Linked DNA regions of Homo sapiens. The protein of the gene in region 1 interacts with the protein of each later gene in a pairwise test. Each region holds a gene or a part of one and is shown in the gene's direction. Other genes may lie near its edges.

Evidence for each region. The genes of interacting proteins can lie anywhere in the genome.
Region 2: the proteins of LARP4 (region 1) and EXOSC7 interact in a two-hybrid assay, tested with the Homo sapiens proteins (one large-scale study listed by BioGRID).
Region 3: the proteins of LARP4 (region 1) and PAX5 interact in a two-hybrid assay, tested with the Homo sapiens proteins (one large-scale study listed by BioGRID).

The regions. Positions count from the first base shown.
Region 1 is NC_000012.12:50,455,893-50,461,107, forward strand, and holds part of LARP4 (la-related protein 4), read left to right. Parts: exon of another isoform or gene 1-536; intron 537-678; exon of another isoform or gene 679-894; intron 895-5,215. UniProt on the Homo sapiens protein: RNA binding protein that binds to the poly-A tract of mRNA molecules. Associates with the 40S ribosomal subunit and with polysomes. Plays a role in the regulation of mRNA translation.
Region 2 is NC_000003.12:44,978,401-44,983,615, forward strand, and holds part of EXOSC7 (exosome complex component RRP42), read left to right. Parts: intron 1-5,215. UniProt on the Homo sapiens protein: Non-catalytic component of the RNA exosome complex which has 3'->5' exoribonuclease activity and participates in a multitude of cellular RNA processing and degradation events.
Region 3 is NC_000009.12:36,963,897-36,969,111, reverse strand, and holds part of PAX5 (paired box protein Pax-5), read left to right. Parts: intron 1-2,387; coding exon 2,388-2,563; intron 2,564-5,215. UniProt on the Homo sapiens protein: Transcription factor that plays an essential role in commitment of lymphoid progenitors to the B-lymphocyte lineage. Fulfills a dual role by repressing B-lineage inappropriate genes and simultaneously activating B-lineage-specific genes.

The DNA.
Region 1 (5,215 bases):
AAAAATTAGCTGGGCGTGGTGGTGTAGTGCATGCCTGAAGTCCCAACTACTCAGGAGGCTGAGGAACGAGAATTGCTTGAGCCTGAGAAGCACAGGTTGCAGTGAGCCGAGATCATACCACTGCACTCCAGCCTGGGTGACGGTGAGACTCTGTTATTCCCTGCAGCCACGCCCTCTCACCCCTCCCCGCTCCCCCCTCCAAAAAATAAAGGTACTGATATTTGCAGTTGCTTGACTCTGAAATACTTTACTTGGCTCCATGGTTATTTCTTTATTGTTACCTTTTATCCGTTGCATCTTTTTGGTGACAGCCAGGAATGACAGTCAAGTTATCTTTACTTATAAGGAAGTATACCTATGGTTTTGAAAATACATGGTGTGTTTAGTACATTTTTGCATGTTACTTAAAACCACTTGTGTACAGTTCTTTTCCATATATTTGACCAATACAGGTTGGTAATTTTTAATTACAGAAATAATTAGTGAATACTTTTTCTAAAAATGCAAATAAAGACCTTCTGGACCAGCAACCCAAATCCTTGTTTCCTTCTTGCTTCTAAAAAGTGACTACTTCTAAAAAGTGACTACTGCCAGGCATTTATTATTATTATTAATGTTAACAGCTAAGGACAAAGTCTTTTTTAGAGAGCCTTTTGCAATTTTTATATTAACCTGTGACAGCCCAGTGATGATCACTATTCCTACTTAGAGAGAATAGGACTAACTTTCAGAAATCCAGGCATTTTTCTACCTTTCATACTATCTTTCTTTCACTTTACTTCTCTTTTCTGTCTTTTATCACTTCTTTCTTTCTTCATTCTTTCTCTCTTTTGCCTGGATCGAGATTGTTAAGTCCCTCTCAGTGAAGGGTAAGATTATGAGATCTGAGGGCTGTATAAATGTAGTAAGTTGTCCCTTAAGCATATTGAAATGTAGTGTGAAAGTTGGATGAAGGACATTTTCTAAACATATGCAAATACCATATCTATCATATCAGTTCATTTTCAAGATGTAACAGGTAATATAAATTTTTTTTTTTGAGACGGAGTCGTGCTCTGTCACCGGGCTGTAGTGTAGTGGTGCAGTCTCTGCTTACTGCAACCTCTGCTTCCCGAGTTCAAGCAATTCTCTGGCCTCAGCCTTCTGAGTAGCTGGGACTACAGGCATGTGCTAGCTAATTGTTGTATTTTTAGTAGAGACGGGGTTTCATCATGTTGGCCAGGATGGTCTCAATCTCTTGACCTCGTGATCCACCCAGCTTGGCCTCCCAAAGTCCTGGGATTACAGGCATGAGCCACCATACCCGGCCTTTTTTTTTTTTTTTTTTTTTAAAGACGGAGTTTTGCTCTTGTTGTCCAGGCTGGAGTGCAATGGCGGGATCTCGGCTCACTGCAACGTCCGTCTCCCGGGTTCAAGCGATACTCCTGCCTTAGCCTTCCAATTAGCTGAGATTACAGACGCATGCCACCACGCCCAGCTAATTTTTTGTATTTTAGTAGAAACTGGGTTTCACCATGTTGGCCAGGCTGGTCTCGAACTCCTGACCTCAGGTGATCTACCCGCCTTGGCCTCCCAGAGTGCTGGCATTATAGGTGTGAGCCACCGCATCTGGCCTAACTATTTTTAAAATTACTTTTTATAGCCAGTGGGGTGGCTCATGCCTATATTCCCCACACATTGAGAAGCCAAGGCAGGCAGATCACTTGATCTCATGAGTTGGAGACCAACCTAGGCAACAGAGTGAAACCTCGTCTCTACTGACAATATAAAAATTAGCCAGGCATACTGGTGTGCACCTGTAGTCCCTGCTACTTGGGAGACTGAGGTGGGAGGATAGCTTGAGCCCAGGAGGCAGAGGTTGTAATGAGCTGAGATCGCACCACCTCGCTCCAGCCTGGGTGACACAGCCAGACCTTTCTCAAAAAAAAAAAAAATTACTTTTTGTTAAGTGACATACTATTTTCATTGCTATTTAAGAAATCTAGTTTGTAATATAAAGTAATTCTATGGCAAAGTGTCACTTTATGTGAAACTCAACCCAACTTTTTTTTTTTTTTTTAAGACAGTGTTTTGCCCTGTCACCCAGGCTGTAGTGCAGTAACATGATCATGGCTCACTGTAGTTTTGACCTCCCAGGCCCAATCAATTCTCCACCTCAGCCTTCCTAGTAGCTGGGACTACAGGCGCATACCACCATGCCTAGCTAAGTTTTTGTATTTTTTTTTTTGTAAAGACAGGGTTTTGCCATGTTGTGCAGGCTGGTCTCAAACTCCTGGGCTCCAATGATCCTCCCACCTCAGCCTCTTAAAGTGCTGGGGTTACAGATATGAGCCACTGAGCCCACTGCGCCCAGCCTGATAATTTTATCTTTGTTTTTGTTTGTTTGTTTTTGTTTTTTGTTTGTTTTTGTATTTTTAGTTAGAGACAGAGGGTTTCACCATGTTGGCCAGGGTGGTCTTGATCTCTTGACCTCGTGATGCACCCGCCTTGGCCTCCCAAAGTGCTGGGATTACAGGTGTGAGCCACCACACCCAGCTACTTTAAGTTTTAATAATGGTAATTTTTTATGGTCTGTAAAGAATAAAACAGGACAACTAGAGATGCTGTGGGAATTTACGTTTAATTGGTGGGGTTATAATTATTCAAGAGGTTTTAAATCCTTATTCCTAGAGTCAGGAATTGGCAACATGTGATTTATATTGTTGGTTTATAACTATGAAAATAGATTACAAAAACTGAGATATATAAACTGCAAATAATGGGCCAAACATAAATCTCACTCTTCTTAATCTGTAGATCCAAGATCCTCAGTTGCTTGAGATTTTAGGTGTTTTTGCTACTGATTAAACTACATTCTTTTTATATTAGTCAACCTTAGCTTCATCTGTTGTAAGCTTTTAGGAAGTTGGGTGCTTATACCCATCATCCAAGATAAAAACTCCCTTTGTTAAAAGCAGATTGGTTGGTTTAACCACATTGCATACCTTAATTCATGCAGTCATGCCATGCTATTGGGTGCATTGGTATTTTCCTAGTTTGCTGTCCTACATATGGATCTTTTGATAAATCTCATTTGGTGATGGATGTTTAGTAAGATGCTAGGTTTTGTTTGTTTTGTTTTTTGAGACGGAGTTTTGTTTTTGTTGCCCAGGCTGGAGTGCAATGGTGTGATCTTGGCTCCCTGCAAACTCCACCTCCTGGGTTCAAGAGATTCTCCTGCCTCAGCCTCCTGAATAGCTGGGATTACAGGTGTTTGCCACCATGCCAGGCTAATTTTTGTATTTTTAGTAGAGATGGGGATTCACCATGTTAGCCAGGCTGGTCTAGAACTCCTGACCTCAGGTGATCTGCCCGTCTCCACTTCCCAAAGTTCTGGGATTACAGGCGTGAGCCACCATGCCCGGCTGAGGCTAGGATTTTAATTATATTCCAATATTTCTTACTCTCTTCATTATTACTCCCCTAAACAGCCTTTTTAGGCATTTTCCTCCTAGTTTCTGCCTGTGAAAATTTACTACTACAGATTATTGTATGTCTGTATGTATGTAATGTATGTATCTGTGCTTTATACATAAAATGATTACTTTTTGCCCTTCCTTCGCCCCCGTTTTTACTCCCATTAGCGTGGTTTTGCTTCCATTAAGAATGCATAGCTGGGCCTGGTGGCTCACACCTGTAATCCCAGCACTCTGGGAGGCCGAGGTGAGCAGATCACCAGGTCAGGAGATCGAGACCATCGTGGCCAACATGGTGAAACCCCATCTCTACTAAAAATACAAAAATTATCTAGGTGTGGTGGCACGTGCCTATAGTCCCAGCTACTCGGGAGGCTGAGGCAGGAGAATCTCTTGAACCCGGGAGGCGGAGGTTGCAGTGACCTGAGATCGCGCCATTGCACTCCAGCCTGGCGACAGAGCAAGACTCCGTATCAAAAAAAAAAAAAAAAAAAAAAAAGGGTGTTATAGGCCAGGTGTGATGGCTCATGCCTGTAATCCCGACACTTTGGGAGGCCAAGGTGGGCGGTTCACGAGGTCAAGAGTTCAAGACCAGCCTGGCCAACATGGCAAAACCCTGTCTCTACTGAAAATACAAAATTAGCCGGGTGTGGTGGCATATGCCTGTAGTCCAGCTACTTGGGAGGCTGAGGCAGGAGAATCGCTTGCATCTGGGAGGCAGAGGTTGCAGTGAGCCGAGATTGCACCACTGCGCTCCAGCCCGGGCAACAGAGCAAGACTCCATCTCACCAAAAAAAAAAAAAAGAAGAAGAAGAATGCATTGCATAGACTCATAAGCTTAAAACCTGGCTGATTTAAACATGTCGAGAGTGCCTCCAGTGACATTAGCTAAAATCCTAATTCTGAGTATTAAGGTAGAAGTAAGTTTCTTTCAAAGAACTTTGGATTTTCCCCCGTCTCTCCAAACACAACTTAAAATATATGTATATTATTGTCTTAGAGATAGGGTTTTCTCTGATGCCTGTGCATGAATTCAGTTGTGCAATCATAGCTCGCTGCAGCCTCAAACTCCTGGGCCCAAGCAGTCTTCTGCCTCAGCCTTCCAAGTAGCTGGGCATATTATAGGTGCATACCACTGCACATTTTAATTTTTTTTTGCAGTGATGGGGTCTTGCTGTGTTGCCCCAGCTGGTGTCGAACCCCAGATCTCAAACAATCCTCCTGCCTCAGCCTCCCAAAGTGCTGAGATTACAGGCGTGAGCCACTGTGTCCAGCCCACAACATTTTTTAATGTAAAATTTACTTCACTTTGGCCTGGCACGGTGGCTCACACCTGTAATCCCAGCACTTTGGGAGGCCAAGGCAGGCATATCACAAGGTCAGGAGATCGAGACCATCCTGGCTAACACGGTGAAACCCCATCTCTACTAAACAAAATACAAAAAATTAGCTGGACGTGGTGGCTGGCGCCTGTAGTCCCAGCTACTTGGGAGGCTGAGGCAGGAGAATGGCGTGAACCCGGAAGGCAGAGCTTGCAGTGAGCTGAGATGTGCCACTGCGCTCCAGCCTGGGCAACAGAGCGAGACTCCATCTCAAAAAAGTTTACGTCACTTTTTAAAATAACATCTGGAATGTAAAAGGGGCAACACTTTTACAACATTATTCTTTTGTGTTTAACTTAATTTTTTGAAAACCCCAGTACAACAGGAGCCAATTTTTTACCTAAGGAAAGATGTTTTTCTGTCTCGATTTACTGCTTT
Region 2 (5,215 bases), on another chromosome or scaffold:
TCCTCCTCTGTATCTTCAGGACTCAGTATTCATTCATTCAACACAGAACTGAGCTAGACTCAGGGGCTAGGAAGGAACCTGTCCTTATATAGCTCTCATGCTAGAAGGAAGATGCAGAAACTATAAATGTACTTGAGTGTTTATATATAAAATTGTACTGAATGCTATGAAGGAAAAAACGGACACGATCTAGACTGGGAGGTCAGAGGAGGCTTCCCTAAGGAAATAGCATTTGAACTGAGTTCTCAGCATGACTGAGAATTAAGTAGGCACCAGTGTTCCAGAAGGAAGGGGTGGTGAGTCTGTAAATCCTCAGGTGGAGGACATGTGGAGCCCAAGGGGTGGGCTGGGGGAAATGGTGGAAGATCAGCTTGCAGAGGTGGCCAGAAGCACGATCCTAGAGGTCTTAGAGGTTCAGTCATTCGCTCATCATGGATCTTGGAAGGCAATAGCCTGTTGACTTGTCTGTATGGGGGACCCTTAAGGCATAGCCAGTGTCTAGCACTTGGTAGGTTCTTAGTAGCATTGAATGGGTGATGTAAGCTTTAAAGGGGGAATGAGTTGGATGGTGTTTTTATTTTTTAAATTAAACCTCCCTCTCACCAGTACCATGGACATATTTGGGCACAGTTGTTGGTAAATGCTCAGCTCTGTGTATCACAGAGCCATGCAGAGTAATGGGCTTCAAATCAACGTCTTCATAAGGGCTTATTAATGTTGGCCCAAAATATGCCATATGTATAGAGGAGCAAAACACAATTTACACCATCCAAATAAAGGTCAGGATGCAGGTGAATGAGCCTACCATGGAATCTCAACTGATTCAGTTCTGAAATCTCCTAAACTTTTGTTGCGTTGGTTATAGAGTGCCGGCAGTGCACCTTAAGCAGTGCCTGCCTGAACTCCTGTTGCTTGTATAGTCCTAGTCATTTTGTGTTTTACTTTTCACCTTTGGTCCAGTAACGTCCATTTCAGCTTCTGATGTCACTTTCCCTTCAGCCTTTGGTTCTTTTACTATTTCAGGGAATATTTCATCTTGTTTTGGTGATAGTTAGAAGCAGTTGAAATTAACCTCACGATGTGTTGAGGATTCAGTTGCTAGTAATGGTAACCAACACATCGGCTCAAGCAAAACAGTATGGATTACAAGGCTGCAAGTGTTTCTCCAGGAATCCTAATCTCTGCTGGTTTTTTTTTTCCCCCTCTTTGCTTTGTTTTTGTCTCCCTACAGATTGGTTTTCTATTTCTTGGGCCAGTGGTAGAAAAAATGTGGTTCCTTCCCAGTTCCTCTGTAAAAGAGACCATTCCTTCTCGTTCAGTTCTGAACTCATGTTTCCAAGAGAAAGAAACTCTAGTTCTTTTAGGGGGTTGAGGGAAAGGATGGACAGAATAATTAGGCTCAAACATGGCCACTAGAGGATGTGTCACACTTGGGAGAAGTCAGTTTGTGAGAAGGGAGGGTGGATCATTTTAGTTATTGGCAGAAAATGGAACCCTCTTCAGGTAGTTCAGGAGACTTTTATGATGGGACTCTAGAGCAGTATGGGGGGGGTTTCAGGGAACCAATAAGAGATGTTGAGGAGCCCCAAGACAACTACTGGGAGTGGCTACTGCCCCTATTCCAAAGGGGCCAGGGGAGGAAACAGTATTACCACATTTCAGTGATAGCTGGAACTGTGGAGGAAGGGCTGCCCAACATAAGTCATAGTCTTCGATAGATGCAGGCACTATCAGAAATGTGGCCACTAGATTGGGGGTGAGGGGCACCCTCTGATCTGGTATCTTCCACTGGACAAACCCAACCAGAAGCCAGCAAAGGGAGTCTAGGTGATACAATTTGAGTCAACCTGGTGAACAGATCCCCTCTCCCAGGGGAGAACAGAGAATCAAAAAGGTGGATTAAATCGGTATTTTGATAAATAATTTGATTGGTTTCTGTTAGGTTCTCTTTCAGTCTTTGAAGGCTATATCCCATTCTTATTAGGTACATATTATAATTTTTATTTCATTGAATATTTACAACAGTTCTGAAGGTAAATGTTATCTCTATAGATGAGGAACTGAGCTCGGGCAGGTTGAGTCGCTTGTCAAGGTGACACAGTAATTGAGTGGTGGCACTGGGATTTAAATCCAGACCTGTCTGATTGCAAAGCCCATACTTGACTCTGAGGCCACCTTCCTGCTGCAGTGAAAGTCATTTCTTCCATTTCCTCAGTAGGGATCCAGAGATCAAGGCAGGAGAGAATCTTTGCTTCCTCTACCTCCTTTTCTTTCCCCCTTTCTCTAAAAGCTTGTGGGGAAACTGGAAGGGAAAGAGAAAGTTCTAATTGACACCTCCCACTCCCCAGTTTTTCTAGAGCTTAAATAGTATATGGCATATACTGCTGTATTGTTTTGGTTGCATTTTTCCCACATTGAGTATAAGTTCCTTTAGAACCCTATATTGCATTTCTTTGTATAGCTTTTGTCTTACTAGTATCATAAACGATTTACTCTGCCCATACCATGCAGAACTTGGAGCAGACTTCAGAATTTTTAGAATCTAGGATTTATCCTCTTTTCTGGCTTACTGGGCTAGATGTGTGTTTTCCTCATCCATGAGAAGCCATTGCTAACCTCCCTCTTAGCCCAGGGATTCTGAAGCCTTGAAGTGCATTTTACTCACCTACAAAATACAGATTCTGAGGCTTTACCCCAACATTCTGAATCAGACTCTCTGGGGCTGGGGCCTGAGAATGGACATTATCATAAAGTGTTGGGAAATTTGGGGGCAGCCACCAGACATTGGCCCATGGGTAAGCCACTGACCAGAGATAAAGAAATCTCTGCTCTCTCCTGCTGAAGTCATATGGTTTCCTGCCTCTTTTTGAATGAGGCTTTGGAGTCAGACTGAGCAGGCACCTTCACCATTTACAATAAGTGGTTTTACTTGCATAACTGAACCTGCTTCCCTTGTGTAAAATGGGGACTTATGCACCTGGAAGTAGAATGGGGTTATGAGGAATGATGAGATAAGAGATGTCAAGCACTTGGGCTGTGGTTAACACAGAAAAAATGCTGGCTCCCTTTCAAGTTTGTTTTTCCATCAGAAGTGTGACTTTGTCTTAAACCATCCACACTAGATCCCCAGCCTTCATAGTGACCTCATTAAAGATTCAGCCTGTGGCTCCTGAGAATTAAACCTCTTTTGATTTGAAGGAATCGGGATTTTTCAATTATCTCAAGAAAAGGGATAGGCCAGGTGCAGTGGCTCACACCTGTAATCCCAGCCCTTTGGGAGGCTGAGGTGGGAGGATCACCAGAGGCCAGGAGTTGGCATCCAGTCTGGGCAACATAGCAACACCCTATCTCTAAAAAAAATTAGGTGTGTGGTGGTGTGTGCCTGTAGGCCTAGCTGCTTGGGAGGCTGAGGCCAGAGGATCGCTTGAGCCCAGGAGTTGGAGATTTCACTCCAGCCTGGGTGACAGAGAGATACTCTGTCTCTTAAAAGAAAGAAAAAGAAAAAAGAGAAGGGGGATCTGTGGCAAGAGCTGGAAAGTCCCCAGACAGCTCTGAGGTACCGCCTCTCATGGGCTCCGTGGATTATCTCATGGCCTGTGTGGCTGTCTGTCTTTATCTCTAGTGACATCTCTGCTTTTCTCTGCCAAGATTTATCCCTTCTCTGCAGCCACTTGCTGTCCAGCTTCCCTTCTTTGTAGAATCTGCCTCTGCCCAATACCTTTACTTTCGTGTGGCCTCTCTGGGCTCCTCCATATCATGACCTGTCAGCTCCTCTTTAACTCCTTTCTTCTCTCAAGTGTTTCTCAGATCAGAGACCAGATTGCAATGAGAGAATCAGTTTGGTCTGGTAGTATTTCACGCCAAAAAGAGTTGGTCACCCTTTGGATTATATGCCTTTGGTTCAGGCACCTACCCCTGGTCCTGGCTGTTGGGGATGGATGGTGACTGTTATGTGGCCTTTACAGGGCTTTAGGCACAATAAAGCTTTCCCAGGTTCAGCCTACTGAGTGCTATGGCTATGACCTGGACATTAAACTGGCCCTCATAGGTTCAGACCTGGCCATGGCAATTGACGAACCCTACCACAGGGCTCTTGGAACCCTGTGAAAGCCATTTTATTGTATGTTCTTGGCTGTTGAAGGGAGTTGTAGCCCAGCTGATGGCTTCCATTTCTTTTCTGTGGATCTTGCTTTCATCATAAGCATTGTTTAGGGGTATAGCATGGAAGAGGGAGATCAGGGCCTCAGCCTGGTTTTCAACTATGAGATTGAGCAGTCAGTATTCGGTTGCTCAGTCTGGCCATGACAGAATTGGAGCCAGCCCTCAGGACTCTTGATTTTTAGCTCTCTGCCCTTTCTGTTTACAGACCCATGGCACAGAAAGCCTTATGCCCAGACACTGCAGGATGCAGAGTTATGGAGCCATATCCTTTCAGAGGAATGCCTGGCTACTCAACAGGGTTGGAAAGTCAAACAAGGATCAACACCTACTTTTGCCTGCTGTGTGATGGGCCCGAGCCTGCAAAGCTGGACCAAATGTGGCCCCTTTCCTAAGGGCGGGGGGCAGTCACCTTCTAGTAGGGGAAGGAATTTAGTCTCACTTCTCCTTTAGGAATCTGGAGTATTAGACAAGTCAAAGCAAGTTAATGAGGGGTTAACATAACCTCAGAGGACCACTTTGAGTCTAAAGTCCTTCCAGATGTGTCAGATTGGTAGCGCCAACTTGTCAGTTTCTATTAAGAAGTAATAGGACTGGGCTTCCTGGGTGTGAGGGAAAGTAGGTCTGTGCTTAAATGTCCTTCCACTCTGTCACAAACAGGAGATTGAAACTTAGGTGCCTCCATTCTTATCTGTAACCTCTCTCAGGGTTGTTTTTGAGGATGCAGTGAGTTAATGCATGCCCCCAGAAGCAGGGGAAGGGAACTGCTTTGGGGGGACTCCTATGTGTTACACTGAAGGACTCCTTTAAATGCTTTATGACGTTTCTGTTCTCTTGTAACTCTGTAAGGTCGGGGTTATCCCTGCTTTCTAGATGAAGAAACAGGCTTAGAGCTATTTAGGTCAAGGTCACAAAACTGGCATGTGACAACAGAGATTTAAGTATAATTTGGAAGGTGGCTGTTTCCACCACACCACACCCTACTGGTAGGGTTGTTGTGATCACATGGGTAACAGCTGTGAAAGTCACCAAGAGCTTTCCTGGCATCCAGAAGCCC
Region 3 (5,215 bases), on another chromosome or scaffold:
GAGGGAGAAGCTCTTGAAAGTGGATGGGCCCCTTCTGACAAGGAGGAACTTGGTGGTGTCCTGGGGACCAAGGCCCACGTCATGCTTTAGCAAGAGTGACTGGGACCAGGATGACTGGGCAGAGCCACAGCTGAGTAGGAAAAACTGAGCCATCTTTCCTGGTGTGCGTGTGCGTGTGCATGTGTGTGTGCATGTGTGTGTGTGCATAGAACCTTTGAGAAAAGGATCATTTGGTGGGTGCTGACCAATGGAAGAACACTGCTGGGCAGATAGACTGGGCCGTGAGCTCCCATACCTGCTAGTCTAGGTGACCTTGTGGGAATGGTCCCCATGGGGATGGGCCATGATGGGAGAAGGGTCTCTGAGGATGATGTCCTGTGGGCAGGAGCAGGCACCTGTCTTGTGGAAGGCCAAGGTCATGGGCTGCCAGAGGAGGGGCCTAGGCTTCAGGCTGGGGAACGTTGGTCAGAGAGACCAACTTCTGCCTTGGCCCACATGTGGGGGTATCTGGTCACTCAGGCTGTGGCCCAGCCTACAGTATCCTCTTGGGTCAAAATTGGTGGGGAATCCATTTTCTCAGAGGGCTCATGAGCTGCCTCCGAAGGCCCTTCCTATAGAGGATGCTGGGTCCTCTGAGCCTGTTGACTTCTACGAGGGATCCGAAAGGCCAAAACTCAAAGCTGCTATCTTTGTTCAAATGTCAGCCCTGCATTGCAGTTGTCCCCAGATAAGTACAGTTGAGGAAGCATTGACTTCTGACTGAGTCTTGGTGACACCACATCTCACTGCTTCATGGTCTTTAGTCTGGCCTCATTCCTCACATGGGTGGGAGCTTGACGTGACGGATGAAGTCTAGTCTAGGGCAGCAGTGCACTGGTGGGGGCAGGGGTCAGACAAGGCCTTGAGTAAGGGCACCTTTCAGCATGAGAGCAGACCCACGCTGGTTTTCCCCAGGGCTTCCTGACTGCAAAGGCAGATGCCTCACCTCTGGGCCTGGGTTTCAAGAAGCCTCTGGTCAGCCTTGCGTGAGCAATATGGTCCCAGAGAGCCCCGGGGAATGATGTACCCCCGAGGCCATTTCCTCACGGGAAACATTTGCCCTCTGTGCTTGATTTTATTTTGAACAGTTCAAGCTTGAGACTCAACAGAAGATATTTCATCCCATTTGTTTCTTTATTGATAATTCGTAATATTTCTTTTGACATGTAAGCATCATCACCAGAGACTGTTACAGTGTGAATAGCTAACAATACAGAACACAGAGGGAATTTAATCTTATACTTAGTTAATTTACATTTTGTAATAAGCAGTACATTCAAACTTCTGAAACCAAACCAAACCAAAGAAAAACATGCCATGAAAAGTCTCTCCCCCTCACCTCCACTCACTCACTTCCTACCTCCCTGAATGAGCAACCACTGTAAATGTTTCTCATATATCCTTTGGAGAGATTTATATTGCACATCGTCTTATTTTCTTCCTTTTTTACACAAAAGGTTGTACATTATACATGCTGTGCTGTACCTTGTTTTTTATTTTTTAACATAACAATGTATCTTGAAGATCTTTTCATATCAATTCACAGAAGGAAGCCTCATTCCTTTTCAGCTGCTGCACAGTTTTCCATTATGCAAGTATGCCTGGCTGAGTTAACCAACCCCCCACAAATAAACTCTTGGGTTGTTTCCAGTCTTTTGCTACAAGAACCTTGTACATACATCACTTCTCACATGTGTAAGTTGAGCTGTAAAATAAATTCCCAGAAGTGCAATCGCTATATCAAAGGGAATGTGCATTTGTGGCTTTGATAGATTTGTCGACTTGTCTAGCACAGGTGTTGTTACCACTTCCACCAGAATTGTATGAGAGTCCCGTTTTCCTACAGTCTTCCTAGCACAGTGTTTCACTGACCGGTCACATGATGTGGTAGCAAATGTCCAGGGTAAGGACCTCAACTCTGGGAAAAACTGTACCTCCCGGGAAGGTCTTTAGGACAGGAGGGGCAGGAGCACCGGATGACTAAGCCTGTGGGTCAGCCCAAGCTCGAATCCTCAGGCAAACCAATAAATCTCTCTAGGTCTCAGTCTTCTCATCTGCAAAGTGGGGAAAATAACCTACCTTGAGGGTCATCATGAGGATTAGATGACATGATGCCTGTCAAAAGGGCTTTGCACAGTCCCTGGCACATGGCTGCGGGAGGCTGACTCTGAACTTACCAGCAGGTGACCTTGGGAAAGGCAGTGCCTTACCTGAGCCCCTGCTGGTGTATTCTCTGGTCAGGGAGGGAGTTGGGGTCAGGTCCTCTTCATAGTCTCAGGGTCTGACCTGTCTTTCTTTAGCAACGTGTATAACCTCCACTCACCCTTCCTCTCTCCTGCTCATCAAAGGTATTCAGGAGTCTCCGGTGCCGAACGGCCACTCGCTTCCGGGCAGAGACTTCCTCCGGAAGCAGATGCGGGGAGACTTGTTCACACAGCAGCAGCTGGAGGTGCTGGACCGCGTGTTTGAGAGGCAGCACTACTCAGACATCTTCACCACCACAGAGCCCATCAAGCCCGAGCAGGTACGCCTCGTGATGCACGCCCACCACACCTGCCACCGCCACACCGGCCCAGCCAGGTTCCTGAAGGCAGAGGCATCTGGCGGGGTGTGGGTGAGGGCACACCAGGTTCTGCTCAGAGAGGTCTCTTCAGTGTTCTTGGCCAAACTTGGGCAGTCGCTACATCCTATAAGGTCGGGAGGGCTTGTCTGGGCCTCCAGTGGCTTCTTGCCCTGGTGCCTCTGTCGCTGGCCAGCCAGGGGGTGGGTGACTTCTCTGGCTGCTCTGGTGTCCTTTCCAAGGGCTCTTTGGACAGAAGGGTGTAATGATCTTTCGGGCCACGTAAGGTGGTCTTGGGTCAGTATCTTGTCAGTCAGGGTGATGGTGGAAATATGTAACCAGCACGCGGCCTGGGGGCTCACCGGCCGTGAACAATGGAATGACGGAGCGGGTGGGTATCCCACTGTCTGCCCTCTCACCAGGTCGCCTTGTCATTCTCTTAGTGACTGAATCCAAAATTCTGGAGATAAAGAAATGTCTCATTGCACAAACTCCCACCTGGGTTATTTGCAAGAGAGGGAGAAAGCAGGAGGACCAGCCCTGGCTGACCGGCTGTCTGCTATACCCTGGGCAGAGTAGTCACTACCTGTGGCTATAGAGATGAGATCACGAGGCTCGGCCCAGTGAGAGGCTCTTGAGGCCTGACTAAGATCTCTGGACTATCAGATTCAGTTCATAAGACTATTTCCTGACACCCAGTGTGTGCCAGGGCCTTGACAGGTAACCTTGCAGGCTAGACATGGCTCTGGACTGCCAAGAGCTCCCACCTGGTGGGCCAACCAGAGAGACCCTACAGACAACAACTTTCCTCGGCACTTTCCTCGCTGGTACTAGTGGTGAGAACTGGCTGCGCTGAGTTTCCTCTAAATGCTAATTAGAGGATGCTTCTGAATCTTCTCCAAAAAGTCAGTCCAAGCAGTGTAGCCTCCCTGCACAGCTCCCATGGAGAGGCGAGGTGCTGGAGAGAACCGTGTGGTGAGGGAAGAGCAGGGCCTCTGGGGCCACCCATCTATGACAGTCTGTCTGTGTCTGAGCAGTTTCTATGAGAGCTCTTACAGACCTTCTAGCCACTTTGTTTTCAGATGGTAAAACCAAGGTCCAGAGAGGCAGAGCAACTTGCCTAAGGCCACGCTGCAAGACGCATTCACATAACAAATATGATGAGTGTTTACTTTGTGCAAGGCCTGGAGCCATGCACTGGGTCACATCAGTGAACAAGATGGTCTTGGACCTCCCCTCAGGGAGCCTACAGACTTGTGGAAGAATCCCAATAGAAGAATTACCTAAAGGGTCATGGGTTACAGGTGCGCTTGGTGCTAAGGAGGAGGTGTCTGAGGTTCTCTGAGAGCCTAAAGGAAAGGCTGAGCCAGCCTGGAGGCCTCAGTGGCCTCCTGGGGGAAAGGTATTTATGCTGAGCCTGAAGGGGTTGAGTGGAGCAAGGAGAAGGGGTGTGGGGGTGGAGGGAAAGTGCCTGGCAGAGGGGACAGCAAGTGCAAAGGCCCTGAGTTGAGAGGAAGGCGGCAGGAACGAGGAATGGAGAGAGCCGGTGTGGTTGTGGCTCAGGGATGGGCGGGCGATGATGCTGGGGAGGTGGGCCTGGTCTTGTAGACTGGGTTGAGGATTTTAGTCTTTCTCTTACAAGTCGAGTGACACCTCTGTTGGGTAGGACATGGTTATGGTGCTGGGCATAGCCGCCCCCACACACTCTAGATCTTGGACTTCAGGGAGGAGAGTCTGTTTCTATCACAAGCACCCTCTCTGCTCTGCTCAGAGCCCTTCTGAGAGACGGCAGAAGGCACATTTTCTCTGACACGGGAGGAGAGTGAGAGGGGCCTCGATCAGGAAACCTTCCTGGATGAGGCCTGTCCTTCCCTCCAGAATGTGGAAGAAAGTTTATCTTCTTTTTTTTTTTTTTTTTGTGAGCTGGAGTTTTGCTCTTGTTGCCCAGGTTGGAGTGCAGTAGTGTGATCCTAGCTCACTGCAACCTCCACCTCCTAGGTTCAAGTGATTCTCCTGCCTCAGCCTCCTGAGTAGCTGGGATTACAGGTGCCTGCCACCACGCCCGGCTAATTTTTTTGTATTTTTAGTAGAGATGGGGTTTCACCATGTTGGCCAGGCTTAGTCTTGGACTCCGGACCTCAGGTGATCCACCCTCCTTGGCCTCCCAAAGTGCTGGGATTATAGGTGTGAGCCACTGCGCCCAGCCAGAAGGTTTATCTTTTTTCTTTTTTTGAGACAGAATCTTGTTGTGTCGCCCAGGCTGGAGTGCAGTGGCGCGATCTCGGCTCACTGCAAGCTCCACCTCCCGGGTTCGCGCCTTTCTCCTGCCTCAGCCTCCCGAGTAGGACGGACTACAGGCACCCGCCACCATGCCCGGCTAATTTTTTCTATTTTTTAGTAGGGGCAGGGTTTCGCCGTGTTAGCCGGGATGGTCTTGATCTCCTGACCTCATGATCCGCCTGCCTCGGCCTCCCAAAGTGCTGGGATTACAGGCATGAGCCACTGCACCCGGCCAGAAAGTTTATCTTCTAATGGCTGACAAGATCATGTAATTTTAGGGGTAACAGGAGCCACAGAGGCAAGATTTCAACCTGTTGTTTTTTTAGAGGCCCAGAG